Linked DNA regions of Homo sapiens. The protein of the gene in region 2 interacts with the protein of the main gene of each other region in a pairwise test. Each region holds a gene or a part of one and is shown on either strand. Other genes may lie near its edges.

Region 1 (7,123 bases), on a different chromosome or scaffold from region 2:
AGCCTCCCAAAGTGCTGGGATTACAGGTATGAGTCACCATGCTGGGCCTCACATGTTAGGTTTTAATGAGGTCTCTTAGTTTGCCGCTAGGATCAAGTCCTCTCTCTTTTTTTTTTTTTGAGACGGAGTCTCGCACTGTGGCCCAGGCTGGAGTGCAGTGGTGCAGTCTCAGCTCAATGCAACCGCCGTCTCCCGACTTCCAGCGATTCTCTTGCCTCAGCCTCCCGAGTAGCTGGGATTACAGGTGCGTGCCACCACGCCCGACTAATGTTTTGTGTTTTTAGTAGAGATGGGGTTTCACTGTGTTAGCCAGGATGGTCTTGATCTCATGACCTTGTGATTCACCCACCTCAGCCTCCCAAAGTGCTGGGATTACAGTCATGAGCCACCGTGCCCGGCCTCAAGTCCTCTCTCTTACCTCTCACTGATTCAGCCACATACAATTATTTTGATCACCTGCTATGCACCCATGGTGTTCTTGGCACTAGGAATCCTGCTGTGAGTGAAGCTGAGCTCCTGCCTGGGTAGAGCCTGGGCCACATGGGTCTCCCAGCTGTGCTTTGAAGTCACTGTCAAAAGTCCTGGGCACTGGAGAATTTCATGTGTCTGTTGCTAAGGCAAGATGCCAAATTCCACATTTGCCTCCAACAGGAACAAATGTCAGTTTCCACCAAGCCCCACCTTGTTCAGGTGACTCCTGTTGTGAGTCTTTTCATACCATCTCCCCTTCACCCACAAGTGCCACCAACAGGCAGAGGTGGGGAGCTGGGTTTGGAGATACTGGTCTGATCCTTAGGTGAACTCCTCTCCCCTGATGTTGCAGGAGAATGGGTGCTCAGATGGAGAATCAGCACTCTTCTCAGGATTGGAAGGTGCTGTGGCTGGGGGAGTCTGCATTATGTTCTGGGCTGTGAGCTTTTCCAGAATTCTGCTCCACAGGCACACATCTGCTGTGTATGTATTTCATGGTATAAATCAGATGTCCCTGAGTTCTCTAGTATTGAATGTCTATGTAAAAAGTGTCTAGCCCCAACTGAGGATGCTGGAAGTCTAGTCTGTTAGGAGGCCCCTGAATATGTGCTTGTCTTGTGTGACCTTCCAGGAGGTGACTCAGTTCTCTTTTGTTCTGTTTCTTGCTCTAGGCTATTGCTCCATTTTTTTGTAGGTCATCTCCTGCCACTTCTTCTCTAGGGTAATGCTGTTTGCAATACACAGTTCCTTGTCTTGGTTTCCCAAGCATCTTAGTTCTGAAAGTGAGATATGGGCTTGTCTGGGACGTGGGGGACAAAGATCAGGTGCCTCCACAAGTGACTCTCCTCAGCTCCCAGCCAGCTGACAACTGCATGGACTGATGGTCTCTTTCTTTCCTTATCTGCATGCTGGTTTCCAGGACTTTGCGCACCCTGAAGGAGCCTCATATGACCCAGTAGTTTCATTCCTAGGCAGCTTTTATATCTTTTATCATTTTTCTAAGCTTAAGACACCTTTGGTCAGCCACGGTGGCTCACGCCTGTAATCCCGGCACTTTGGGAGGCCAAGGCGGGCGAATCACCTGAGGTCAGGAGTTCGAGACCAGCCTGACCAACATGGAGAAACCCCCTGTCTACTAAAAATACAAAATTAGCTGAGCGTGGTGGTGCAGACCTGTAATCTCAGCTACTCCAGAGGCTAAGGCAGGAGAATCACTTGAACCCGGGAGGCAGAGGTTGCAGTGAGCTGAGATCTCGCCACTGCACTGCAGCCTGGCAACAAGAGAAAAACTCTGTCTTTAAAAAAAAAAAAAAAGACTCCTTTTCTTTCCTCATTAATTTGGCGGCCACGTCTGTCCGGAACTTGTGGGACGTCCTCGTCTTCATCAGGTTGGCAGATACTCCAGCATGGCCTGCCGGCCGCCGAGGCCACCATCCACAGGCTCAAGGGCTCCGTGGTCGCTCCTTCGTGCTCCCGCCTCCAGAGGGAGCCAGACAGTGCATCCTTGCAGTGGACGCCGCCCGCCCGCAAAAGCCTGTTTTTCAATGACTGCCTCTACCTCTGAACCTCAGCTTAGATTTCTCTCTCTCTCTCTCTCCCTCCCTCTCCCTCTCTCTCTCTCTCTCTCTCTCTCTCCCACCCCCACCTCCTCTTTTTAAGACAAAGTCTTGCTCTGTCACCCAGGCTGGAGTGCAGTGGCGCGATCTCGGCTCACGGCAAACTCCGCTTGCCGGGTTCAAGAGATTCTCCTGCCTCAGCCAAGCAGCTGGGAATACAGGCACCTGCCACCACGACCGGCTAATTTTTTTTTTGGAAGAAAATGACTTTATTCTAATTAACTCACAAAGAATAAAATCATAACAGCTAGTTTAAGGAGGCCACACAAACATTTGCCCTGTCACAGATTCTACAGAGTAGGAACACCCCCCTTCCATTTCAATTCTGAAGCAAGGAAGCTAGGAATGACAGGAGAGGTTTAACTCATGGTTACACTTTATACCCTCACTATCAATTCTATTTTTATACTAAATTAACTTAGTTATGAGAGCTGATTTTCCATCTCTCCAGGTTGAACTTCTTGATTAGGCCAATCCGTTTGCAAGTCGGCACTGTTTCAGCACCTCATTGAAACCCTCACAGAGCTTGATGTCACCCTGGTTCTGGGCACACTCCAGAAACTGATCTCATAGAAGCAAGGCTGCTGCTGCTGTGCCGGCTGGGTTCCCTGAGGCTCCTGGTAAGTGATGTCAGGCCTCGCAGGCTCAGCATTACTTCCTCCCCTGAAAGCCCCAGTAATGGCGTGACCCACAGCAGAGCCCACAGCCACGCCAGCTGCAGTGGTTGCCATCTGGGCCATCAGACCTGGCTGCCGGGGCGCAGCAGCAGAAGAGCCAACTACAGATGGGGGTGCCGCTGCTGGTGGCTGAACGACTGGTACTGGCCTGGGTGCAGCTCTCATCTGAGGGGGCCTGGCTGGCCGGAGGGGCCATGCGGGAGGTGCGGCTTCGGCTTCCACGCGGCATCCTAGGTACGCGACGGCTCGGCCTCCGGACGTGTGACGACCGGCTAAATTTTGTATTTTAGTGGAGATGGGGTTTCACCATGTTGGCCAGGCTGGTCTCAAACTTCTGACCTCAGGTGATCCACCCACCTTGGCCTCCCAAAGTGCTGGGTTAACAGGCGTGAGCCACCGCACCTGGCCCGATCTACCCTTCTCTTACAGGATTCCTAGAGACTTAATATTTTGGTTTTGGTTTGTTTCTTTTTTGAGACAGGGTCTCCACTCCGTCGCCCAGGCTGGAGTGCAGTGGTCACTGTAGCCTGGATCTCCCAGGCTCACGGGATCCTCCCACCTGACGGCCTCCCGGCCTCCTGAGTAGCTGGGACTACAGGTACGCACCACCACACCCGCTACTTTTTAATTATTTTTTTTTTTTGAGACGGAGACTCGTTCTGTTGCCCAGGCTGGAGTGCAGTGGCACGATCTTGGCTCACTGCAAGCTCCGCCTCCCGGGTTCACGCCATTCTGCCTCAGCCTCCTGCGCAGCTGGGACTACAGGCACCCGCCACCACGCCCGGCTAATTTCTTGTATTTTTAGTAGAGAAGGGTTTTCACTGTGTTAGCCAGGATGGTCTCAATCTCCTGACCTCGTGATCCACCCGCCTCGGCCACCTAAAGTGCTGGGATTACAGGCGTGAGCCACCGCGCCCAGCCCTACTTTTTAAATTTTTTGTAGAGCGGGGTCTCACTATGTTGGCCATGCTGGTCTCGAATTCCTGGCCTCAAGCGATCCTCCCGCCTTGGCCTCCCAAAAGCTGGGATTACAGGTGTGAAACCCCGCGCCGGTCTGAACCTCAATGTTTGAACCACCAAATTTTACCTGTATTGACACAGGCCCCGTCTTGTTGTTTTTCTAAATCTCATGTCATTGTTTGCATATTGGTTACCCGTGGTTGGCTTTGGAGCTGAAGGTGGACAGAGCTAACATCAGGTTGCACACAGGAACACAGTGAGGTCGCGAAAAAGTAGCGCGAGCTGCCTCCATGGCCCAGGGCGACCTCACCGGCGTTTCCTGTCTGGGACTGCGCCCACGCGGTCACGTGGTGGCCCGGAGGACGCGCGGCGGCAGCGGCGCACGCGCACGGAGAGGAGGCTACTTGCCAGGTGAGCGAGCTGAGTGGGGCGCCGGGGCGGTAGGAGGGTGCTGTTCGCTGAGCTGGAGTCCGGGCTCCGGTCCCCGCCACGGACCTTGAGAGGGTACCCGGGGTCAGACCTGGCAGGTGGGAACCGGGAGTGGGGAGGACCCAGGGCAGGGGCGGGATGCGCAGATTCGTGGAAACTCTGCAGGTTGTGGACAAACTGCCCAAATCCTTTTCCCTGAATGCCAGTTTAATGGCCTCGTCTGATAAGAAAAAAATAAGAAATAGATTTCAGAGACCCTATTTCTCTCTCTGCCTCTCCACCTGCTTTACTTTTTTTCTCTTCTGTTAATTTTGAGCCTTATAAAACTATAGCGCCAGTATCCTGGTTTGGATCCTGAAACAGAAAAAGACATTAGTGGAAAAAATAATAAAGGCTGTGGTTTAGTTAATAGCACGTACCCATGTTAATTTCTTAATTTCGACAAATTGTACACAAATGTTGACATTAGAGGAATTTGGGTAAAAGGTACACAGGAATTCTTAGTACTATCTTTGCAATTTACTGTACATCTAAAATTATTCTAAAATGAAAAGTTAAGAAACAAAATCCTAAAGCAAAGTGCAGCAGGCCATTGTTCACCAGGGAGGGCTCAAGTTAGTTCCTCTTTGTCATGGAGTTAGGCATGTTTGACCAACTTGTTTGCTAAGGCAGAGTTGTCAGGCTACTGAATGTAGATTCTTCTGTCCAAAGGTTTCCGGGCAGGAATCGGTTTTCTCTTTCGATTCTGTCAAATATCTTTGGAACACATGTTGTGCATAAGCAAACGAGACACACAAAGTCTCTGCATAAGGGAATATACAGTCAGTCTAGGTCAGGTAGGAAGTAAGCACTATTAAAAAGATTCAGTAAAACCTCCCAGAACTGGGAAGACTCAGATGTGGAAGAAATCACATCTGGTCCAAGGGAGTCAGGAAGGCTACTGGAGGGAGTGCTGTCCTGAACTGAGGGGGCTCTGAGAAGAAACAGCATTCCTGGGGTGAAGAATGGCACCAATAGAGGCTTGCAGGTGACCAAGCTGAGCTGAGGGAGGAGCCCTGGGAGCAAGTGCAGTTCCTCTTACGTGGAAGCGCAGAGTACATCCAGGGAGTACTGCCAGATGAAACTGGAGGTGAAAACTGTAGCTTTGTTGTAGAAAACAGGGTGACACTTCAGTTGGATACATTATTTTTATTTTTATTTTTTTGAAACGGAGTTTCGGCTGGGCGCAGTGGCTCACGCCTGTAATTCCAGCACTTTGGGAGACCGGTGAGCAGATCTCCTGAGGTCTGGAGGTCTAGACCAGCCTGGCCAACATGGTGAAACCCCGTCTCTACAAAAATACAAATATTAGCCGGGCATGGTGGTGGGCGCCTGTAATCTCCGCTACTGGGGAGGCTGAGGCAGGAGAATCGCTTGAACCCAGGAGGTCTAGGTTGCAGTGAGCCGAGATCGCACCATTGCACTCCAGCGTGGGTGACAGACAATAGTGCTGTCTCAGCTCACTGGAACCTCCACCTCCCAAGTTCAAGCGATTCTCCTGCTTAGCCTCCCAAGTAGTTGGGATTAAAGGCGCCCGCCACCATACCTGGCTAATTTTTGTATTTTTAGTAGAGACGGGGTTTCACCATGTTGGCCAGGCTGGTCACAAACTCCTGACCTCAGGTGATCTGCCCGCCTCAGCCTCCCAAAGTGCTCGGATTACATGTGTGAGCCACTGTGCCCAGCCTACATTTTTTTTAAAAAGGAAAACAGGGTGACATTGACTACAATTATACATGCCATGGGAGCCATGGAATGTTTTACAGCAAGAGAGAGACATCATTCGGTTTGCACTTGGATATTATTGACTTGGCAGCAGTATGTAGGTTGGCTTGAAGTAGACCAATTAGGAAATTATCAGGCTAGCCTTGGGGAATTAAAGAGACGTTCCACCAGGGCAGTGAAATTAATGTGCAAAGAATGACATAGTTTGGGGAGATTTTTTTGGGTCTAGAAGACCTAGCAACTGAAGGCATGTGAAGACCAAAGAGGAAAAAACAATTCCAAAGTTTTGCTCCTGAGTGTTTTGGAGCATAGTTGATGCATTTGCAGAAATAGAGGACTCAGAGGGAGACCTGGAATGGGGGCTGGGAGGATAGTGAATTTTTTTTTTTTAGATGGAGTCTTGCTCTGTCACCCAGGCTGGAGTGCAGTGGTGCAATCTCGGCTCACTGCAATGTCTGCCTCCCGGGTTCAAGCGATTCTCCTGCCTCAGCCTCCCGAGTAGCTGGGACTACAGGTGCACACCACCGTGCCCAGCTAATTTTTGTATTTTTAGCAGAGACAGGGTTTCACTATGTTGGCCAGGCTGGTCTCGAACTCCTGACCTCATGATCCGCCCGCCTCAGCCTCCAAAGTGCTGGGATTACAGGCATGAGCCACCGTGCCCGGCGGTGAATTTGTTTTTGAGCAAGATGTGCTTGGATTGCTGGTGGAATATCCAGTTGGAGATGTGTATTTAAGATTAGTAAAAGAAGCCAAACATTTACAAAAGGGACAGGAAAAAGAAAAAGAGCCTTAGAGGACAGATATGAGAAGATATGAGTCAGGGAAGGAGGAGGATCAGATTTCTATTTCTAGGGGCTTCAGGAGTCAGGTGGACCTGGACTTAGTGAGTCAGTAGTGTCACAGCTCCTGCAAAGGTAGAGGAGACTGAGGAATGAAACTTGATCTTGGATTTATCTATGAGGAAGTCACTGGTCATCTTTTAAAGAGTTGTTTTAGTGGAAAAGTGAGACGACTGCTAACAGACTGTAATCTATTCATCCTACAGCCTTTCCCAAGTGGCCAGAGGACTGGACAAAGAGCCAGAAATATTGTTTCTAGTCCTGGCTCTGCTGCTAATTACCATTGTATTTGGGGCAAGTCACGTATGCCTGGGCTGGAATAGAAAAAAATACATCCGAGCTGGGCTCGGTGGCTCATGCCTGT
Region 2 (7,117 bases):
GAGGAAGTTTTAAGTTGCCATGGAAACTTCTTGTTTGATGTTCGTGGGCCCAGATAAGCTGTTCTAGGCGCCCATGGGCTTGGAGAAAGGGGGCAAAAATGAAACAAAAGCTGTTTGGGGAGGTTATTTTCTGCACACTGCAGCCCAGCCCACTATAGATGCAGGAAAATTCTCCACCTCCCTGTCAGGACTGCCTCCCCTGGTCTTCCCTGTCCCCCTTCCTTTGGGTTCCTCTGGTTCCCAAGAAATCAGAGTTAAAAGGGGATGGGAGGGAAGACAGGAGGGGTGTGCCCAGCCCCTGGGCTTCCCCCTTTGATGCCCCAGCTCACCAGGGGGCCGAGCAAGTATGCAGATCCCCAGGCCCCTGGCTTCCCAGAGTCCTTCCTTTTGGAAGAATAGGAAGACCTCCAGGGAAAGCCACACAGAAGGAGGCAGGAGACAGCGACTGTGGCTTGAATTATGCAATTACCTGGAGTAAACGCCTCAAAGGCTTGTTTGTTCAGAGGGCCTCTGTTTTCCCATATTCTGATGACATAACTGAGCCAGATGTGATTCCTAACTAACTACAGTTGTTTGGGAAATGTTGCTCTTTCTCACATTTTTAATTCTTAGAGTCTTTTTCTGATAACAAAAGTAATATATGCTAGGGCCTTTTTTTTTCTTTTAACACCGCAAACATCACAGAAATGCAGTGACAAAGGAGAAGGGCCTGTAATTTTACGCTGTAGAACAATGGTCCTCAAACTCTTTAATATAAATGAGCCCCCAGAGAGGTATGTTTAAAATCCAGATTCCATGGTGGCTTCATTCCTGTGATCCTAGCACTTTGGGAGGCTGAAGCAGGAGGAACACTTGAGGCCAAGAGTTCAAGACCAGCCTGGGCAACACAGTGAGATCTCATTTCTAAAAAAAATAAAAAATTAGCTGGGTGTGGTGGCATGTGTCTGTAGTCTCAGCTACTTGGGAGACTGAGGTGGGAGGCTCGCTTGATCCCAGGAGGTCAAGGCTGCAGTGAGCCATTATGGCACCACTGCATTCAGCCTAGGTAACAGAGTAATGCTCTGTCTCAAAAAAAAAAAAAAAAAAAAAATCCAGATTCCTAGGTTCCTCCCTAGGAAAAAAAAAAAGCAAGAGCATTTTTAGCACTCATTTCAAATGACATCTAGTAATAGTATTTGAGATACACTGATCTAGAGTTGACCTCTGCTAACAGATTAGTGTATTTGCCTCCACACTAGTTCTTTATACATATACCAACTTTTTTATCTTGAAAAAAAAAAGAGATCCTACTACATATGATTTTTCATTGAATATGTAGAAGACATCTTTTTCAGGTCAATACATAGACATGTTTATTGGCTGCATCTCGTCTTGGGGTGTAGCATAGTCTCTTGCTGATGGAGTGTGGCCTGGGAAAGGGTGGTGGTTGGCCGCTGATCTCACGTACAGTTGCACCTGCACATGGACACACAGCAAGATGGTGCTGTAACAAGCTCAGCGCTGTCAAGGTTTTCGGTGTCTTCAGGTTAACAATAGTTATTGAGCCCCTCAGTACTGGGACAGGAAGATAGGTAGGTACCTGCCCTGGGGCTAGCAGTCTGATGGGTTTGTATACAAGTTGGACTGTGAGAAGAGTTTTTGTGGGAGAAGCACAGTGACTCCCAACTGCCCACGGAAAATGACGCCCAACATCCGAGGACTACTGCCCAGTTCTCCTTGGCTGTCAGGTGCGTGTTCCTCTGAAGTGTACCAGGTGATGGGCTTCTGTCTTCTCCGGGGATGAGCAGGAGCTGTCAGAAGTTCCCCCGCTCCAGGATCCTTCTTACTCTCCAACTGTTAGAAGGCACTGGGATTGGTTCATCTGAGCCACCAAAGACCCTAGGAAATATTCAAAATACTTCTTTGCAGAGCAGGAGGATGTGTGCAAGGAACCAGGGTCAGCAAAGAGTGGTTTGACAAGAATCTAGCTGTCCTCTTCTACCAGGAGAGTTTGGGGAAGTTAAGGCAGAGCAGGGTGGGAGGCTGAGGGGGCTACCATTCATAGTGCCTCAAGAAATGCAGAATTGGGGAAGAAGAAAAAAAGGGACCACACATTGTTTCCAGAAAATTGTTTTATACCCAAGAATTTAGGACCCTCTTAGTTTAAGTGGCTCGAGAATGGTCAGCGTGGCCAAGACTCCCTGGACATGCCTGCCCTGTCCCTCCCACTCCACCCCTGTCTCCCACCTCCCTCACTCCCAAGATGGCACCCAGCCTGCCTTTACATCACACCAGGATCCACCCAGTCTGGGCCTTTCCACTGGCTCTTCCCACCCTACGAAGACTCTCCCATGTGTACAGACTTCACACAACTGACTCCTTGTGATTCTGCTACCCTAAAACACCACCCGCTCTCACCTCACCCAGCCTTGCGTTCATCACGGCATTCCTCACTGCCTGACGTCATCCTGAATGTCCCCTTCTTTACTGTGTGTCCCCCTTGAAGGTAGGTTCCCTGACAGCAGGGATATTACCTGTGTCATTCACATGGTACCCCCAGCACTTAGAACAGTGCCAGGAACACAGTAGGAATTAAATAAATGTTTGTTAAATGAACAAATAATATAGGCCAAAGAAGACACAAGGTTGCCTTGTTAAAGCCTCCATTCACCTGTGATGCATGTCCTAGGCCTCATCACCTTCTAGCCAACCAAGACTCCATGAGAAAGTAAAGTTGGGGTGGAGGCCTGGTCTAACTGGTAGACCCCAGCTTCCTCACTGGGGAACTAGGATGACACTAAACGATAGAAAACACTTCCAGCTTTTCAAGTGAAAGCTGATTCTGAAATTAGGAGAATGCCTCCATTATCTATAAGCATCCAGGCTGGCCTTAAGGATCTACATACATTTTTTACTTTTCTTGGGTTTTTTTGTTTGTTTGTTTTTTGGGTTTTTTTGAGACAGTCTTGCTCTGTCACCCAGGCTGGAGTGCAGTGGCCCAATCTTGGCTCACTGCAAACTCTGCCTCCCAAGTTCAAGCAATTCTCCTGCCTCAGCCTCCCAGGTAGCTGGGATTACAGGTGTGTGCCACCACCCCTGGCTAATTTTTGTATTTTTAGTAGAGACAGGGTTTTACCATGTTGGCCAGGCTGTTCTCAAACTTCTGACCTCAAATGATCTGCCTACCTCAGCCTCCCAAAGTGCTGGGATTACAGGCATGAGCTACCATGCCTGGCCTACTTTTATATTTTACATTCACATGTTCATTCATTGAGCCACTACTTATGGAACACATATTCTGCCAGGCAAAATGCACCATGCTGGGCTCTGGCCTCAGATCACGTAGAGTCCAGGTCTCTCTTGGAGAAAAGTCCTATATGCTGAGCTTTGACTATGTGCTTCACTAATGTCATCTCATCCATGTCATCTCCCAACCACCCTGGTATGCTCCACATTTGACAAACACAGAAACCAAGACACAGAGACACTGAGTGGCTGCTGAAGGGGCTGGTGCTGGAGCCAGGGCCAACACATGAGCCTGCTGAGACCCAGACACGGTGCATCCCCTCTCCCACGCTCTTCCGTTGGCTCCTCTGTGAAGTTCCAATGACATTCAAGGTATCAGGAAAACGCTGTGTACGGAGTTTCTGACCCATTCGTGGATAATTAAGAACTGACCCAATGCTGAGCAGTTTCCCCTCCCTTTACACCCCACCCTTTTCCCCCCAGAGCCATTTTCTCCTGAAGAATCCACACCACTGCCTCAGGAAGCTTGGCTTCCCCTCCCATGGGGAAGTGCTGGAATCCACTCTTGCCTGACCCTCCCATAAGAAACAAGGGAAATTCCTTTACGTGAGCCGCCTTGCTCAGAACAAAGCTTGGCGTGTTTCTTATTCCTCATCAATCTGACAAAATGGGTATTTATTTGTGCCTCTCAAGCGTGTGGCTTGGACATGATGTTCCGCATCGTGGAAGTGGCCGTGCACCAAGTGGAATATCTGTTACTATAGTAACAGTTCCTTTTTATTGATACCAGAATAAACAGGAATGCAAAGGCTGTCTCACTTGTTGGCACATTTCAGCAGCCTCCGTTCCCAGGGGTTTAAGAACCGCCCTCTAGAGGCAGCCCTCCTTGCTAGTCTGGGACTTCCCGGTGGAGTGAGGAACCCAGCAACACGCTCCTGACTTCCCTTCCCAAGGACTCGACCTGAGAAGTAAGACCATCTCTGTTCTGTTTCATCTGCTGTTGAGAGCGGTGCCGTTCGGGAGGAGGTGGAAGGGAAGGAGGGCAGACCCGGTACACTGAAGTGGGCTGTCAGTGGACCTGAGTGCTTTGAGTTTAGGTACCCGGGCTATGTCCCAGCATCCATAAAATGATACGGGAGATGCCTCCAGGCACCCTGGGTTTCGGAAAAGGGTAGGAGACAAAGAAGCGAGCCCCCTGGCATAGCCCTGCATTCTTGTTGATCTTTTTCTGCTGCATCCTCAGGTGAATCTGAATTAATGCATGATATAGCCTCACCTAAGTCAATTATCACACAGTATGGGGGTTTAATTCTCAGCACAACAGACAGAACACAGATTTCAGCTTCAGAGTTTGGCTCAGATTCAAGCTCTTTCCTTCACCGGCTGTGTGATTTGGGGAAATCAGATGACTTCCCTGAACTTCAGTTTCCTTGACTGTAAAAAGAGGATAATAACAGTACCCACCTCTTCAGTCTGTCGTAAGAATTTCATATTTCATGAGATATGGCTGCTAGGTGCTTAGCACAGTGCATGGCACATAGTGCACGCAGGTTAACGTGTGAAGGGCCTGCCTTTCTGGTGAATTTGGCTTTAGGACTTTGCAATACAAGGCAAGTCTGAGATTGGGCCAGAAATCAAGAGCTGTAGGATTGGGTGTGTCACTTTTTGAAACTGCTACCAAACCCAAGTAGCTTTGAGCTTCAAGGCAGCCCCCACGCCTGCATCTCTGGGTGGCTTAGATCCTGAGTGGCCCTCTTAGTTCTGTTGGTGGTGAGTACCTGCTGGAATTTTCCCTGCAGAGGCATCTGCCAGGTAAAGTGGCTGACATCATGCCACTAATGAGCCAGCAGGGATTCCAGGTCTGCTGATGCTTGTTCCAGATCAACTGCACAATGCTGTCCACTAACCTTGCTAAGTATCCTCCATGTCTAGCCCTGGACTCTGCTATTTAATTGGTTCAAAATCCTAAATGTCCACCCAACATTCTCCTTCCGAGGTAGGAAGTTGCAACGGACCTGAGGCAAAATGTTCAGGAAGTCAGCCTTGAGTCATTGCATCCAAATGGACAAGCAGCTCTGCTGGGGGCTTCCGAGCATCGACCAGAAGCTGCTGGGAGATCTGGAGGTGGCTCCGAGATACACTGTTCTTTGGCTGCTGGCCAGTGAAATACAAATAGGCACTTTCCCCATGGAGAGGAAAAAAGCCAGAAGGGTCAGGAAATCCAGTGACCGTGCTTGTCACTTTTACTGAATGCCTGTTTTTCCTTTGCCAGTCGTTATTTTGAAAGCCTCTCTTCTCCTCTGCCCTGGCATCCCATTAAATGCTGAACCAAGAGGGTTCTGAATGTGTTCGGAACCCAGCAGCTTGAACAGTAATGAGGAAGTGGGGGCACAGGAGGGAAGGCCACCAGCTGGTCCTCTCCTAAACAGAGACCAGCCTGAGGCCAGACAGGCCCGTGGACTCTAGCTTAAGCCCAAAGCTGCTAGGGCCAGGCTGGGGCTCCCCAGTGAGAGTTTGCATTTCACGTAGGCTAGGAGTCCTCAAGTTAGCAGGCCTCCATGTTCTTATCTATAAAATGGGCTCACACAGCCTCTTCATTGGGGTTTCTTGACTATCTAGAGAGAGAAAAGGGACATAACCCTGCTTTGTCAACTAAAAGACATTTTGCACCTTGAAGACAGTGGAGAGGTAGAAAGAGCATTGAATTTGGCGTCCAAGGTCCTGGCTTTGCTGCTTACTCTCTGTGTATCGAGACAAGTAGCTTGGCCTCTCTGAGCCTTAGTTTTCTCATCTATAAAACAGGGTACCACTGGCTGCCTCCAAGGGTGATTTAGAGATCCAGATCAAATTCTAGTGGTGACCACAGGGTTTCTTCAGGACAGAAGTACCATAGTTTGTCTTCGGTGAGCATCACTCTGCCAGGCGCTGGGCTAAGCACATCATGCCATTGTATCACTTCACCCTCCAAACTGCTCCATGAATAGGCTGTTATCCTTGCTGTATAGAGGCTCAGAGAGGTTAAGCTACTTGCCCAAGGTAACACAGCTGGGAAGGATTGCCACCATGAATCAAACCCACTCTGTCTCCACTAAAACATCTGCTTTAACCATTGCTTTACTGGCTTATGTGTCATTTGTTACAACTGATGCCATCGAAGACAGAAACATGACTACCAGAACAGTGGAGAGGCAAGTGGAAGGGACACTGAGGCCTTAGACAGCCTGGGGTCCCATGGCTATTGTCAAGACGAACTGGGCCCCGAGACTCCATCAGTGCAGCTCTCCTTCTGTCTCTCCTTACTCTCTCCTGTGGCTGCAGGCACCAGTGTTTGGTTTCAAATCTGCCACCCTGCATTAGCCATGCATGCCCCAGTGGCCCGGTGCACTCTCCGTGGGAGCAGCAGTGATCTCTGCTGAGCCTTGCCTGGTGTGGGGCCAACATCCTGTGGAGCCTGTGGCAAGGAGCTCTGGGACCTCTTGGGTCACCAACAGAACCAGGGAGGAACCAAGCAAGGGGTTCCAAATCTTTCCTCAGACCCCTTATTATCCCCACCCCAGGAAAAACAACATCAGTCCCATAAACTGCATATTGAGAATTATTTGCCATCCTATAGTCATGCAAGACACTCAATAGCTGTCGCCTACTGGTGGCCTCCACCCCATGCCCAGCTCTTTAGCTCATCCAATCTTCACAGCATCACAATTCTACAGAGGAGCATCCCAGAGGTTAGAGACCATCCCAAGATCACACAGCTGCTAAGAACTGTGACCTTAATCAGATTTGCTCACAATAACCAGGCCAACTACAGTCAGCTGAGATCCTTCAGGACCGAAGCAAATAAGTTTGTGTTTTGGGTTTTTAACTCCATGGTTTGCAAAGTTGGCTGACTCTA
Region 3 (7,025 bases), on a different chromosome or scaffold from region 2:
GGTGCCCTCCCACAGAATCCAGGAGTCTTTAAAGACCCTGACCCTTGGCGGAGTGCGGTGGTTCACGCCTGTAATCCTAGCACTTTGGGAAGCTGAAGAAGGAGGATCACTTGAGGCCAGGAGCTGCAGACCAGCCTGGACAACACAGCAAGACCTCATCTCTACAAAAAATAGAAAAATTAGCCAGGCGTGGTGGTGCGCACCTGTAGTCCCAGCTGCTTGGGAGGCTGAGGCAGGAGGTTCATTTGAGCCTAGGAGTTCACGGCTGCAGTGGGCCATGACCACACCACTGCACTCCAGCATGGGTGACAGAGTGACACTCTATCTCAAAATTAATAAATAAATAAATAAGATGCTGGCCCTCTTCTGCGAGCCCCACCAAGAGTGCCTTATTCAGTTGTATGTCTTGTGCACCGCACAACACCACGTCTCAGGGTGTACCATTCACACCATACACCTTCCAGAACTGTACATTTCTCATGACAATTTTCCCACCAGTGTCTGAGAAAGAGACTCCTTTTCCAGTTCTTCAAAGCAACTGCCTTGGCTACCTGCCCTCCATTCAACACATTAAATTGCATCCCGACCCACACAGACTGTACTTTATCTACAAGCACAGGAGTTGGCAGCATTAATCAGTGGACTAGCTAATATTGCAATACTGCACCACAATATTGAGCTGTTCCCATCATATTTGGGGGAAAATAAAAGACATTTTCTAAAATGAAACCTTTTTATGTGTCTTTAAGGAGTTTGTAACGATAATGAATGTTAAACATTTTATGTGCTGATAACAGGGCAAAACCACCTAGTTTGCTCGTCCAAAAAATGATGAAGACAAAACCAAAGCTCTAGATTAAGAGTGATTTGAAAAGACGTAACATCATAATATGTGTGCTTATTTGGATCTTGATTTTTTTTAATGAAAAAAATTATCATTTTACAGCCAAAAGGAAATTTGAATACAGCCAGGATATTTGGTATTACAAGAAAATCTTTAATTTTTTAAAGACAGAGCAATGATACTGAGGTTTAAAAAGTTCTTTTTTTTCGAAGGGCACAGGGGCTCATGCCTGTAATCCCAGCACTTTGGGAGGCCAAGGAGGGCGGATCACTTGAGGTCAAGAGTTCGAGACCAGCCTGGCCAACATGGTGAAACCGTCTCTACTAAAAATACAAAAATTAGCCAGGCGTGGTGGCACATGCCTATAATCCCAGCTACTTGGGAGGCTGAGACACAGGAATAGCTTGAACCCGGGAGGCAGAGGTTGCAGTGAGCCAAAATCACACCATTGCAATCCAGCCTGGGCAACAGAGTGAGACTCCGTCTCAAAAAAAAAAAGCTATGTTTTTTGTTTGTTTTTTGAGACAGGGTCTCGCTCTGTTGCCCAGGCTGGAGTGCAGTGGTGTGACCAAGGCTCACTGTAGCCTCAACCTACTGGGCTCGAGTGATCCTCCCACCTTAGCCTCCCCAAGCACTGGGATTACAGGGAAAGAGTTCTTATCTTTTATTATTGTTGTTGTTGTTGTTGAGAGACAGGGTCTTGCTCTGTCACCCAGGCTGGAGTGTGGTGGCAAAATCATGGCTCACTGCAGCCTTGACCTCCCCAGGTTCAGGTGATCCTCCCACCTCAGCCTCCTGAGTACCTGGGACCACAGGCATGTGCCATCAAGCCCAGCTAATTTTTGTATTTTTTTTAGAGATGGGGTCTCCCTATGTTGCCCAGGTTGGTCTCGAATTCCTGAGCTCGAGCAGTCCGCCCACCTGAGCCTCCCAAAGTGCTTGGATTACAGGCATGAGCCACCGCACCCAGCCATCTTTCTTATTTTTAAAAAACTTATTATTATTACTAAAAATACAAAAATTAGTGGGGTGTGATAGCACATGCCTATAGTCCCAGCTACTCGGGAGGCTGAGGCAGGAGAATCACTTGAACCTGGGAGGTTGCAGTGAACCAAGACTGTGCCACTGCACTCCAACCTGGGCGACAGAGCGAGACTCCATCTCAAAAAAAAAAAAAAAATTATTTGTCCTTTTTTCAGAGAAATACTCCCTGATTTCTGAGTTCTCCCAGAACCCTACCACACAGTTAATTCTTCCTCTTCATCATTTCTTGCTCAACTTAAATGTAATTTCCTCAGAATGACCTTCATTGTGAGCCCCGCATCCAATATAAAGCCAATCTTTTTATTGTCTAAGAGCTCCTTCTACATTCCCAAGGCAGCTCTCATCCCAATTTGTAATTATGTTCAGTTCTTTGTTTACTTATCATCTCCTCTCTTTTCCATTAAATTTTAATGTCTAAAAGTACAAGAAAGTGGTCTTTTCTTATTAAAACATTATAGGTAGCTGGGCACAGCAGCTCACGCCTGTAATCCCAGCACTTGGGAGGCCAAGGCTGGGGGATCACTTGGGCCCAGGAGTTCGAGACCAGCCTGGGCAACATAGTGAGACCCCCCCTCTCTACAAAAAATATAAAACAATTAGCCGGGTGAGGTGGCTCATGCCTGTAGTCCCAGCTACTTAGGAGGCTGAGGTGGAAGGAATGTTTGAGGTCAGGAAGTCGAGGCTGCAGTGATTCGTGATCGCACCACAGCACTCCAGCCTGGGTGACAAAGCCAGACTCTGTCTCTAAAAAACAAACAAACAAAAAGCAACTTTATGCCCCATCACTAGCACACTGGTAGCTACATCATATGTGTCCAAAATTCTGAGTGAAGAAACGAATGAATTACCAAAGTATCAATTTCACCTTCTCTGTATTGCCCAAATGATCACTTAGCTCTACTTTGCAACCATTAAGAGCCTAGATTACCATCATTCATTTCCTAACCCCGCTAATAATGCCTTATCTTGTCTCTACTCAGTCATGCCCGTCCTTCTTACAGTCCATCCCCACCATCTAGCTAATTCTGCTAAACACCATTATTCTTTAAAGATACACAAATATTTTTGAAAAAAATACATGTTGGAATTTGCTTAAAAATCACATGAAAGTGAGAGGCCACGCACAGTGGCTCACGCCTGTAATCCCAGCACTTTGGGAGGCCGAGGCGGGTGGATCACGAGGTCAGGAGATCGAGACCATCCTGGCTAACACGGTGAAACTGCGTCTCTACTAAAAATGCAAAAATTTAGCCGGGCGTGGTGGCGGGTGCCTATAGTCCCAGCTACTCAGGAGGCTGAGGCAGGAGAATGGTGTGAACCCGGGAGGCGGAGCTTACAGTGAGCCGAGATCGCACCACTGCACTCCAGCCTGGGTGACAGAGCGAGAGCCATCTCAAAAAAAAAAAAAAAATCACTTGAAAGTGAGAGAGTGGATGGGGCAGGACTGGCCATGAGTGGCTGGTTATTGATGTTGGACATATGGAGTTCATTCCACTATTTTCTATATTTTATTGGTGTTCAACATTCTTTAACTAAAAAAACATTTTTCGGCTGGGCGCAGTGGCTTATGCCTGTAATCCCAGCACTTTGGGAGGCCAAGGCGGGCGGCTCACCTGAGGTCAGGAGTTTGAGAGAACAGCCTGGCCAACATAGGGAAACCCCGTCTCCATTAAAAATACAAAAAAATTAGCCAAGCGTGGTGGTGCATGCCTGTAGTCCCAGTTACTCAGGAGGCTGAGGCAGGAGCATGGCTTGAACCCGGGAGGCAGAGGTTGCAGTAAGCCGAGATCATGCCACTGCACTCCAGCCTGGGTGACAGAGTGAGATTCCATCTCAATAAATAAATAAACATTTTTTGTGGATGTTTAATTCTCTCAGCCAGCCTATGAAGGAGCTACTGTCACAGGAAAGGAACAGAACATAATTAAAAGCTAGGTTCTAAAGTCAGACTACCTGGGTTCTAATTCTCTCTCTGACAGTCACAAGCTATAAGATTTTTCAGGCTGGGTGCAGTGGCTCACAACTGTAATCCCAGCACTTTCAGAGGCAGAGGTGGAAGGATTGCTTGAGCTCAGGAGTTTGAGACCAACCTGGCCAACATAGTTAGACCCCACCTTACAAAAAAGTTGCCACGCATGGTGGTGCATGCCTGTGATCACAGCTACTTGGGAGGCTGAGGTGGGAGGATCACTTAAGTGCACAAGGTCAAGGCTGCAATAAGCTGTGATCATGCCACTGCACTCCAGCCTGAGTGACAGAGTGAGACCCTGTCTCAAAGAGATTTTTGAGGCCAGGTGCAGTGGCTCACGCTTGCAATCCCAGCATTTTGGGAAGCCGAGGCAGGAAGATCACCTGAGGTCGGGAGTTCGAGACCAGCCTGACCAACATGGAGAAACCCTGTCTCTACTAAAAATACAAAATTAGCTGGACGTGGTGGTGGGAACCTGTAATCCCAGTTACTCGGGAGGCTGAGGCAGGAGAATCGCTTGAACCCAGGAGGCGGAGGTTGTGGTGAGCCGAGATCACACCATTGCACTCCAGCCTGGGCAACAAGAGCAAAACTCCATCTCAAAAAGAAAAAAAAAAAGATTTTTGATTTCCCATGCCTGTTTCCTTTTCAGTAAAATAGAGAAAATAGAGTACACATGTCAAAGGGTGTTTGTGAGGTTTCAATAAGCTAATCTATGAAACTCAGTGCTTGATGAATGAATAGTAAGTGCTTGATAACATACCCTAAGGTCAGTAATATTATTCCCAGTTAACAACTAGGGGCCAGGCACAGTGGCTCACGCCTGTAATCGCAGCACTTTGGGAGGCCAAGGTGGGAGGATCATTTGAGGTCAGGAGTTTGAGACCAGCCTGGCCAACACAATGAAAGCCCACTTCTACTAAAATACAAAAAAAAAAAAAAAAAAATAGCCAGGCATGGTGGCGTGCGCCTATAGTCCCAGCTACTCAGGAGGCTAAGACAGGAGAATCACTTGAACCTGGGAGGCAGAGTTTGCCATGAGATGAGATTGCACCACTGCACTCTAGCCTGGGCGACAGAGTGAGACCCTGTCTCAAAAACAAAAAAACAAACAAACAAAAAAACCCTGCTGGGCGCGGTGGCTCACGCCTGTAATCACAGCACTTTGGGAGGCCAAGGCAGGTGGATCACCTGAGGTCGGGAGTTCGAGACCAGCAAGACCAATGTGGAGAAAGCCTGTCTCTACTAAAAATACAAAAAAATTAGCCAGGCGTGGTGACTCATGCCTGTAATCCCAGCTACTCAGGAGGCTGAGGCAGGAGAATCACTTGAACCCGGGATGCAGAGGTTGCGGTGAGCCAAGATCACACCATTGCACTCCAGCCAGGGCAACAAGAGCAAAACTCCATCTCAAAACAAACAAAGAAACAAACAAAAAACCCCTAAGGCACAGAGAAGTGAAGTAACATGTTCAAGGGCACGCAGCAAGGAAGAGGCAAAGTCAGCATTTGCCTGGAGCTCCCGGACATCCAAGTGGCCCCATTCCACACAATCTCCCAGGGTCTGACCGCCCACATCCCCGCTCACCTGGCTGGTGTGATTAGCACCCATTTGCAGCAACATGTGGACACAATCCAGCCTGTCTCGGGCCTGTGTGCTCAGCACCCGGGGACAGAGGTCGGAAGGGCGCATAGCAACGTTAAGGGCCAGGATGGCCGTGTGGAGCGGGGTGAGGCCTGCAGAATGGAGACAGTGAGGGACCCGCATCTGCACCCACCTCGCCCAGCCACACCAACCACACCAGCCCTGCCCACACCCAACTTACCCTCGAAGTCTCTGGCTTCCAGGTCAACCTGGACCCCAGAGTTAAGCACAGCCTGGGAGGAAGAGAAGGCAGACTGCTGGGTAAGGGTATCCCCTGGCCTCCTGGCCCTGGAAGCCAAAATCTGGGCAACCAGTCTACCCCCCAGACAAACCCCTGCCTGCCAGCTGGCCATACCAAGAGAACTCCTGGGAGCCCGTAGGTAGCGGCCACGTGCAAGACCGAACGTCCCTGATGGTCAGCGGCATTGGGCTCTGCTCCCAGGTTCAACAGATCCTCCACAATCAGGGGCTGGTTGGCAGCAGCCGCCACCAGGAGAGGGGTCTGCAGGCCACAGGAGAAGTCAGGTTGGGCTCCTGGTTCCCTCCCGTCAGAAAACCAGGCTCCCAGCCCCATCCCCCCTCAGCCCCAGGAGCTCACCCCCCATTCCCCTCTTCTCTAGGATCCAGGGGTCCAGGCCCCAGGCTCCTTCCTCCCCTGAACCCAGGAGAGTTCAGGCCCCAAGCCTCACCTTGCCCTTATGCTCACGAATGTCAAGACGCCGGTACACCTGGAGCACCTCAGCCGCAGCATATGCCGCCCAGCGCAGCCCCCGAGCCGCAAACAGGTGAAGGAGCCTGAGGACAGGTGGGGGACAGCCGTGAGAACAGCCCCCACCAAGCCAAGAGTCTGCAGACAACCCTATCCCTTATACTCACGTGTCCCCCTCCTCATCCTGGGCCAGCAGCTGCTGTGGCCCCAAAGCCAGCATGTGAGCTCGGGCCACCTCCAGCGATGGTCCAGGGACCACAGCGGGGAACTGTGGGGGTCCTGAAGGGGGTGCAGAAACTCTCCAGGGTCCAGCCTGTGGCAGAGAAGATCCTACATAGAACTGGGTGTCTGGGGGGTCCTGGAGGGTGCAGGTGGTGGGGAGACCCAGTCAGCTGAGAATTCCTCCATCCCAAGCCACCACACACACATCTGCATGCAGAGCCCCTGGGTATCCCATCTATGCCAAGTGACCTTGGACCTTTAGGCCTCAGTTTTGCCCACCTGGAAAAGGGTATTTTTTTTTTTCGGTGACAGAGTCTTGCTCTGTCACCCAGGCTGGAGTGCAGCAGTGCAATCTCTACTCACTGCAATCTCTACCTCCTGGGTTCAAGCAATTCCCCTGCCTCAGCCTCCCGAGTAGCTAGGATTACAGGCGTGCGCCACTACACCCAGCTAATTTTTTTATTTTTGGTTTCACCATGTTGGCCAAGCTGGTCTCAAACGCCTGACCTCAAGTGATCCGCCTGCCTCAGCCTCCCAAAGTGCTGGGATTACAGGTGTGAGCCACCACGCCCGGCCTGGAAAAGGGAATCGTA
Region 4 (7,025 bases), on a different chromosome or scaffold from region 2:
TGTACAATGACATCGATGACATTTGAAGCTTAAAAACCTTTTTTTTTTTTTTTTTTGAGGCAGAGTCTCACTCTGTTGCCCAGGCTGGAGTGCAGTGGCGTGATCTCGGCTCACTGCAACCTCCGCCTCCCGGGTTCAAGCGATTCTTCTGCCTCAGCCTCCCGAGTAGCTGGGACTATAAGCGTGCACCGCCATGCCCAGCTAATTTTTGTATTTTTAGTAGAGACAGGTTTTCACCATATTGGCCAGGCTGGTCTCGAACTCCTGACCTTGTGATCTGCCTGCCTCAACCTCCCAAAGTGCTGAGATTACAGGCCTGAGCCACCTCGCCCAGCCAAACCTTTTTTACTTTTTTGTTTGTTTGTTTGTTTGTTTTTAAGAGATGAGGTCTTGCTCTGCTGTCCAGGCTGGAATGTAGTAGTGAGATCATGGCTCACTGCAGCCTCCATCTCCCAGGCTGCTCAAGCAATCCTCCCACCTCAGCCCACCTGAGACTACAGGTGTGTTCCACCATTCCTGGCTAATTTTGTTAGATGAAGTCTTGCTTTGTTGCCTAGGCTGGTCTAGAACTTCTGGGCTCAAGTGATCCTCCTGCCTTGGCCTCCCACAGTGCTGGGATTACAGGTGTGAGCCCCTGCGCCCGGTCTTTTTAAAAACACTTTAAAACAAGAGTCTTCTTTTGGTGTTGCCCTAGACCATACTACTGGTTCCTTACACATTTTGAAAAGGTATTATTCCTTGTCTATTGAAACCTGTGGTTACTGGATCACACTTTAGGAATTTTTCCTTTAATACTTCCCTCAGCTCTTAAGCATTTTGCAGTAGTTGTTTGATAGAGTGCTTTAGAGCTATTCTTCTGGGCATTTGTCTGTGTGTGTTGTTCTTTAAATTATTAACTTTGTTTTGTTTTGGTTTTGTTTTTTGATACAGAGTCTCTGTCGCCCAGGCTGGAGTGCAGTGGCGCTTTGTTTTGGTTTTGTTTTTTGATACAGAGTCTGTCTGTGTCGCCCAGGCTGGAGTGCAGTGGTGTGATCTTGGCTCACTGCAACCTCTGCCTCTTGGGTTCAAGGGATTCTCGTGCCTCAGCCTCCCGAATAGCTGGGACTACAGGCCTGTGCCCCCACGCCTGGCTAATTTTTGTATTTTTAGTAGAGACGGGATTTCGCCGTGTTTGCCAGGCTAGTCTTAAACTCCTGGCCTCAGGTGATGCACCTGCCTCAGCCTCCCAAAGTGCTGGGATCACAGGTGTGAGCCACCGTGCCTGGCAAAATTATTAACTTTTGAAGGCAGATAAACTGCTTTTATATGTTTTATATTTTCTTTAACTCCATAGTACTTAGTGGCGTTGAGTAATTGTTATTCTTTTGTTGTAGGTGACATAAATGTTACAGTTCTTATTGGAAGTAAACAAGTCAGTGAAGGTACAGATAATGGTGATCTCCCTTCTTATGTGTCTGCATTCATAGAAAAGGAAGTTGGAAATGACCTTAAATCTTTAAAGAAACTTGATAAACTCATAGAACAGAGGACAGTAAGTAAAATGCAGTTAGAAGAACAGGTAAGTATTGAAACTCACTGAAATAATTATCAGTGGAATACTTTTAACAATATAATATAAACATAATCTATTATATATAGAATTTTAAAGATATAGAACGTGACAAATAGTCTATTATATACTGTTTAAGAGGATTTAAGAACGTACATTGTATTACCTATTTTACAAATTAGGTAAAAGACAAAGTTCCTACTGATATGGTTTGTCTTCAAAACATAGTGAGACCTAACATTTTACATAGATTTTCATAGAGTGACTTTTTTTTCCTTTCAATCTGTTTCTAGTGAACATACAGTGACTTTTAAATTGCTTTTACAAGCAAATAATTTCATGGCATACAAAAATATATACCATGGTGTAAACACCATCATTTCAATTTTTTTTTTTTTTTTTTTTTTGAGACGGAGTTTTGCTCTTGTTGCCCAGGTTGGAGTACAATGGCGCCATCTTGGCTCACTGCAACCTCTGCCTCCCAGGTTCAAGCAATTCTCCTGCCTTAGCCTCCCATGTAGCTGGGATTACAGGCATGTGTCACCCTGCCCAGCTAATTTTGTATTTTAGGTAGAGATGGGGTTTCATCATGTTGGCAAGGCTGGTCTTGAACTCCTGACCGCAGGTGATCCACCTGCCTTGGCCTCCCATAGTTCCGGGATTACAGATGTGAGCTGCTATACCCGGCCACATTTCAGATTTTAATAAATGTACCCATAGGGAGAAGTATAAAGTGAAAAGAAGTATAACGTAACGGTTATTTCTGTGTGGTTGGTTGACAAGTGATGTATTTAAAAAATATTTTTAGGCCTGGCACGGTGGCTCACACCTGTAATCCCAGCACTTTGGGAGGCCAAGGCAGGTGGATCACCTGAGGTCAGGAGTTTGAGACCAGCCTGACCCACATGGTGAAATCCCGACTCTACTAAAAATACAACAAAAAAAATTAGCCAGGTGTGGTGGCGGGCACCTGTAATCCCAGCTACTCGGGAGGCTGAGGCAGGAGAATCGCTTGAACCCAGGAGGCGGAGTTTGCTGTGAGCTGAGATCATGCCATCGCACTCCAGCCGGGGCAACAAAAGTGACACTCCGTCTCAAAAATATATATTTCTATGTATTTATAGGTTTTTTTTTCTTTTACAATGAACATATCACTTAAAATAATTTTTTAAAAACCCAATGAGTATAAGCTTAAACAAAAAAATAAGTAGGCCCCTCTACTTGGCAATGGTGTGTTTGTCAAAGATAAAACATTTTTTTCTTTTTTTTTGAGACGGAGTCTGACTCTGTCGCCCAGACTGGAGTGCAATGGCGTGATCTCGGCTCACTGCAACCTCTGCCTCCTGGGTTCAAGTGATTCTCCTGCCTCAGCCTCCCGAGTAGCTGGGACTACAGGCACGCGACACCACGCCCAGCTAATTTTGGTATTTTTAGTAGAGACAGGGTTTCACCACTTGGGCCAAGATGGTTTCGATTCCTTGACCTCGTGATCCGCCTGCCTTGGCCTCCCAAAATGCTAGGGTTACAGGCATGAGCCACCACACCCGGCCAAGATAAAACATTTTTATCATATAGCTACTAAATTAGGTTAAGTAAATTCTGTGTGGGTTATTTCCAGGTTTTTGGTCATCGTATATTCTCCTGTCCCCATTACCTTAGGCCTCCACACCTTCCTGTCTTCCCACCACAACTACTGCTAGTCTTCAAGTTTAGCCTGGCTTTGTCTGCCTTTTCACTCCTGCAGGCAGGTTGTTGTGGGCCCAGTTGGAGGAAGTCATGCAGCTGAGTAGATTGATGCCAATCTATGTGTGTGGTCTGCCACCCTGGCTGAGTCTTCAGCCCCACCAGCAGTCCTTCCATGGGAACGTCAGCTCCTCTGCTACTCCCCTCAACTGTTCTTTCAGATTCTGTTTGAGACATCTACCCAACCTGTCCATTCTGCCCTTTCCTTTTCCCTAGCAGAAAAAAATAGAAGCCTAGCATGAATTTAGTAGCATTGAATTCAGTCTGTTGAATAGTCTATCCCACAATCGACAAATTTATGTGCAGTCATTTTTAACCTCTTCATTCAGCAAAGGATCAGTCGAAGGCAGACCTTATACCCCAGGTTCTCTCTGCCACCTCAGTAAACTTGTGTCACTCTTATAATTTTACCCTGTGTTCGTCAACCAGTCCTATCCCTTCAGCATGTGCACATAGACAGGTCTTTTCCATAAAACCTTAACAAAGAAACAAAAAAACCCATGATCTTTTAGCAGGTATTAGTTCTTTCCTTTGATTGTCAGGCTTCAGAAAGTAACCTTTGTTATCTATCTCTACTTTTTGTCATTCATCTTTTACCCACTGTAATCAGGTTTGTTTCCCTAATGACCACAGAAACTTTTACTGAAGTTCCTTATTGAACCTTAAATTCAGCATGTCCAAAACTATACTGATCCATTTTTTAGAGGCTTGTCTGTCTTGGTTAGATAATGGCACCACTATTTGCCTGTCACCCAGACCTGAAGCCTAGGAGTCCTAGATTCCTTCTTATCATCCTCTCATCCTCTATCCCATCACCAAGTCATCTGAGTTCAGCCTCAACATCTCTGGTATCCATCCCATCTTTCCCACTCTTTTTTTTTTTTTTTTTTTTTTGAGTTGGAGTTTCACTCTTGTTGCCCAGGCTGGAGTGCAATGGCACAATCTTGGCTCACTGCAACCTCCACCTCCTGGGTTCGAGTGATTCTCCCGCCTCAGGCTCCCAAGTAGCTGGGATTATAGGCATGTGCCACCACGCTCGGCTAATTTTGTATTTTTGGTAGAGATGGGGTTTCTCCATGTTGGTCAGGTTGGTCTCAAACTCCCAACCTCAGGTGATCTGCCCGAAAGTGGATCTTGGCCTTCCAAAGTGCTGGGATTACAGGCGTGAGTCACTGCTCCCGGCCCATCTTTCCCACTCTTGCTGATACCATGTTAGTTTAGGCAGATTGGGAGCTTTGTAGAAATGCAGAATCTCAGTCTTACTTCAGACTTACTGTATCAGAATCTGTATTACAACAAGATCTTTAGGTGATTAATGTGCCCATTCATTAAATATAGCCTGTCTATTTTATTGCATTAATCCCACTGTTGAAATTATTTGCTTACAACACTCTTATATACCAAAGTGACCTGAAGGACGGATGCTGTGTCTTGTTTATCTGCATATTTCTAGCGCAGTGCCTGGTACAGAATAAGTATCTAATCACTGTTGATTGAAATTATTCTATAATGTTCTTTGTATTTTGCTGATGACTAATATTTGTATATGTTTTCCCACATACTATAAGAAAAATTCACTTAATAAATGCCATTTTCTTTTTTTTTTTTTTTTTGAGATGGAGTCTTCCTCTGTCGCCCAGGCTGGAGTGTGGTGGTGTGATCTCAGCTCACTGCTACCTCTGCCTTCCGGGTTTCAAGTGATTCTCCTGCCTCAGCCTCCTGAATAGCTGGGATTACAGGCATGCGCCACCATCCTCAGCTCATTTTTGTATTTGTATTTATTTTATTTTATTTTTTGAGACAGAGTCTCACTCTGTCGCCCAGGCTGGAGTGCAGTGGAGCGATCTCAGCTCACTGTAACCTCCGCCTCCTGGTTTCACCAATTCTCCTGCCTCAGCCTCTTGAGTAGCTGGGATTACAGGCTCATACTACCACACCCGGCTAGTTTTTGTATTTTTATTAGAGACGGGGTTTCACCATGTTGGCAAGTGTGGTCTCAAACTCCTTACCTCAAGTGATCCACCAGCTTCTGCCTCCCAAAGTGCTAGGATTACAGGCATGAGACACTGTGCCCGGCTGAATTTTTGTATTTTTAGTAGAGACAGGGTTTCACCATGTTGGCTAGGCTGGTCTCGAACTCCTGACCTCCAGTGACCTGCCCTCCTTGGCCTCCCAAAGTGCTGGGATTACAGGTGTGAGCCACTGCACCTGGCCACTAAATGCCCTTTCTAAAGGCATTGCCTGGATATCATCTCATCAAGTCAGTGCTTCTTAGCCTGGCCTTAATTCAGAATCACCTGGGGTATGTTGGCAAAATATAGATGCTCAGCCTGTTAGAATGAGATCTTTGTTTCCTTTTTTTTTTTTTTTTTGATATGGAGTCTCGCTCTGTCACCCAGGCTAGATGGCAGTGGCGCAGTCTCGGCCCACTGCAACCTCTGCCTCCCGGGTTTAAGAAATTCTCTGCCTCAGCCTCCCAAAGTGCTGGGATTACAGGTATGTGCCACCATGCTCAGCTAATTTTTTTGTATTTTTTAGTAGAGACAAGATTTTGCCATCTTGGCCAGGCTGGTCTTGAACTCCTGACCTTGTGATCCACCCACCTTGGCCTCCCAAAGTGCTGGGATTACAGGTGTGAGTCACCGCACCCAGCTTGCATTTTTTTTTTTCTTCTTTGAGGAGTCTTGCTCTGTCACCCAGGCTGGATGGAGTGCGGTGGTGCAGTCTCAGCTCACTGCAACCTCCTCCCGGTTCAAGTGATTCTTGCCTTGGCCTCTCTAGAGCTGGGATTACAAGGTGTGTGCCACCAAACCTGGCTAGTTTTTGTATTTTTAGTAGAGATGGGGTTTCATCATGTTGGCCAGGCTGGTCTTGAACTCCTGACCTCAAATGATCCGCCTGTCTTGGCCTCCCAAACTGCTGGGATTACAGGTGTGAGCCACCGTGCCCGGCCCTTCCTTTGCTTTGAAGGAAAATATTTAGCAGGTAGAGCATGTATTAATAAGTTTTCTCGGCCTGGCACGGTGGCTTATGCCTGTAATCCCAGCACTCTGGGAGGCTGGGGTGGGCGGATCATGAGGTCAGGAGTTCGAGATCAGCCTGACCAACGTGGTGAAACCCCGTCTCTACTAAAAATACAAAAATTAGCCGAGCGTGATGGCACGTGTCTATAATTCCTGCTATTTAGGAGGCTGAGGCAGGAGAATCACTTGACCCCGGGAGGTGGAGGTTGCAGTGAGCTGAGATCACGCCACTGCACTCCAGCCTGGGTGACAGAACGAAACTCTGTCTCAAAAAAATAAAATAAGTTTTCTCTAGCTGGATCCTCTGCTGAGCCTATGGAGGCAGACCTCTAGATGCTTACTGGAGCCAGTGAGTTAAGTCCCTTTCTCTACATGTATGTGTATATGTATGTATGCATATATTTTTTATTTTATTTTTATTTTTTTGTTTCACTTATTGTTTTCAACACAAAGGCATACTTCTTCCTGCTATTTGTGTGTATATAAAACAGCATGTTATGTTTGGATTGATTAGTACAGGATGAAGAAATCAAACCTTTTTTTGAAGGTTTTGATGGATGATTTTCAGTTCTGTTACAAAAAATGTGTATTTTGAAGGGAACGAACTAATAAAAAAGGTTACATACAGCCTGGGCAACATAGTGAGACCTTATTTCTATTTAAAGAAAAAAAAAAAAGAAAAGCCAGGTGTAGTGGTGCATATGTGTAGT

What was found.
Region 1: the proteins of FAM107A (region 2) and CCDC125 interact in binary tests that used the Homo sapiens proteins (3 or more experiments, as listed by UniProt).
Region 3: the proteins of FAM107A (region 2) and NFKBID interact in binary tests that used the Homo sapiens proteins (3 or more experiments, as listed by UniProt).
Region 4: the proteins of FAM107A (region 2) and RINT1 interact in binary tests that used the Homo sapiens proteins (3 or more experiments, as listed by UniProt).

What each region holds. Positions count from the first base shown.
Region 1 is NC_000005.10:69,329,777-69,336,899, reverse strand, and holds the start of CCDC125 (coiled-coil domain-containing protein 125), read left to right. Parts: upstream 1-4,098; 5' UTR 4,099-4,251; intron 4,252-7,123. UniProt on the Homo sapiens protein: May be involved in the regulation of cell migration.
Region 2 is NC_000003.12:58,574,385-58,581,501, reverse strand, and holds the start of FAM107A (actin-associated protein FAM107A), read left to right. Parts: upstream 1-4,110; 5' UTR 4,111-4,193; intron 4,194-6,687; exon of another isoform or gene 6,688-7,117. UniProt on the Homo sapiens protein: Stress-inducible actin-binding protein that plays a role in synaptic and cognitive functions by modulating actin filamentous (F-actin) dynamics. Mediates polymerization of globular actin to F-actin. Also binds to, stabilizes and bundles F-actin.
Region 3 is NC_000019.10:35,890,536-35,897,560, forward strand, and holds part of NFKBID (NF-kappa-B inhibitor delta), read right to left. Parts: intron 6,569-7,025; coding exon of another isoform or gene 6,524-6,568; coding exon 6,378-6,523; intron 6,297-6,377; coding exon 6,191-6,296; intron 6,004-6,190; coding exon 5,857-6,003; intron 5,735-5,856; coding exon 5,683-5,734; intron 5,594-5,682; coding exon 5,445-5,593; intron 2,633-5,444; coding exon of another isoform or gene 2,525-2,632; exon of another isoform or gene 2,168-2,524; intron 1-2,167. UniProt on the Homo sapiens protein: Regulates the expression of IL-2, IL-6, and other cytokines through regulation on NF-kappa-B activity. Functions in the regulation of inflammatory responses.
Region 4 is NC_000007.14:105,535,192-105,542,216, forward strand, and holds part of RINT1 (RAD50-interacting protein 1), read left to right. Parts: intron 1-1,373; coding exon 1,374-1,558; intron 1,559-6,535; exon of another isoform or gene 6,536-6,664; intron 6,665-7,025. UniProt on the Homo sapiens protein: Involved in regulation of membrane traffic between the Golgi and the endoplasmic reticulum (ER); the function is proposed to depend on its association in the NRZ complex which is believed to play a role in SNARE assembly at the ER.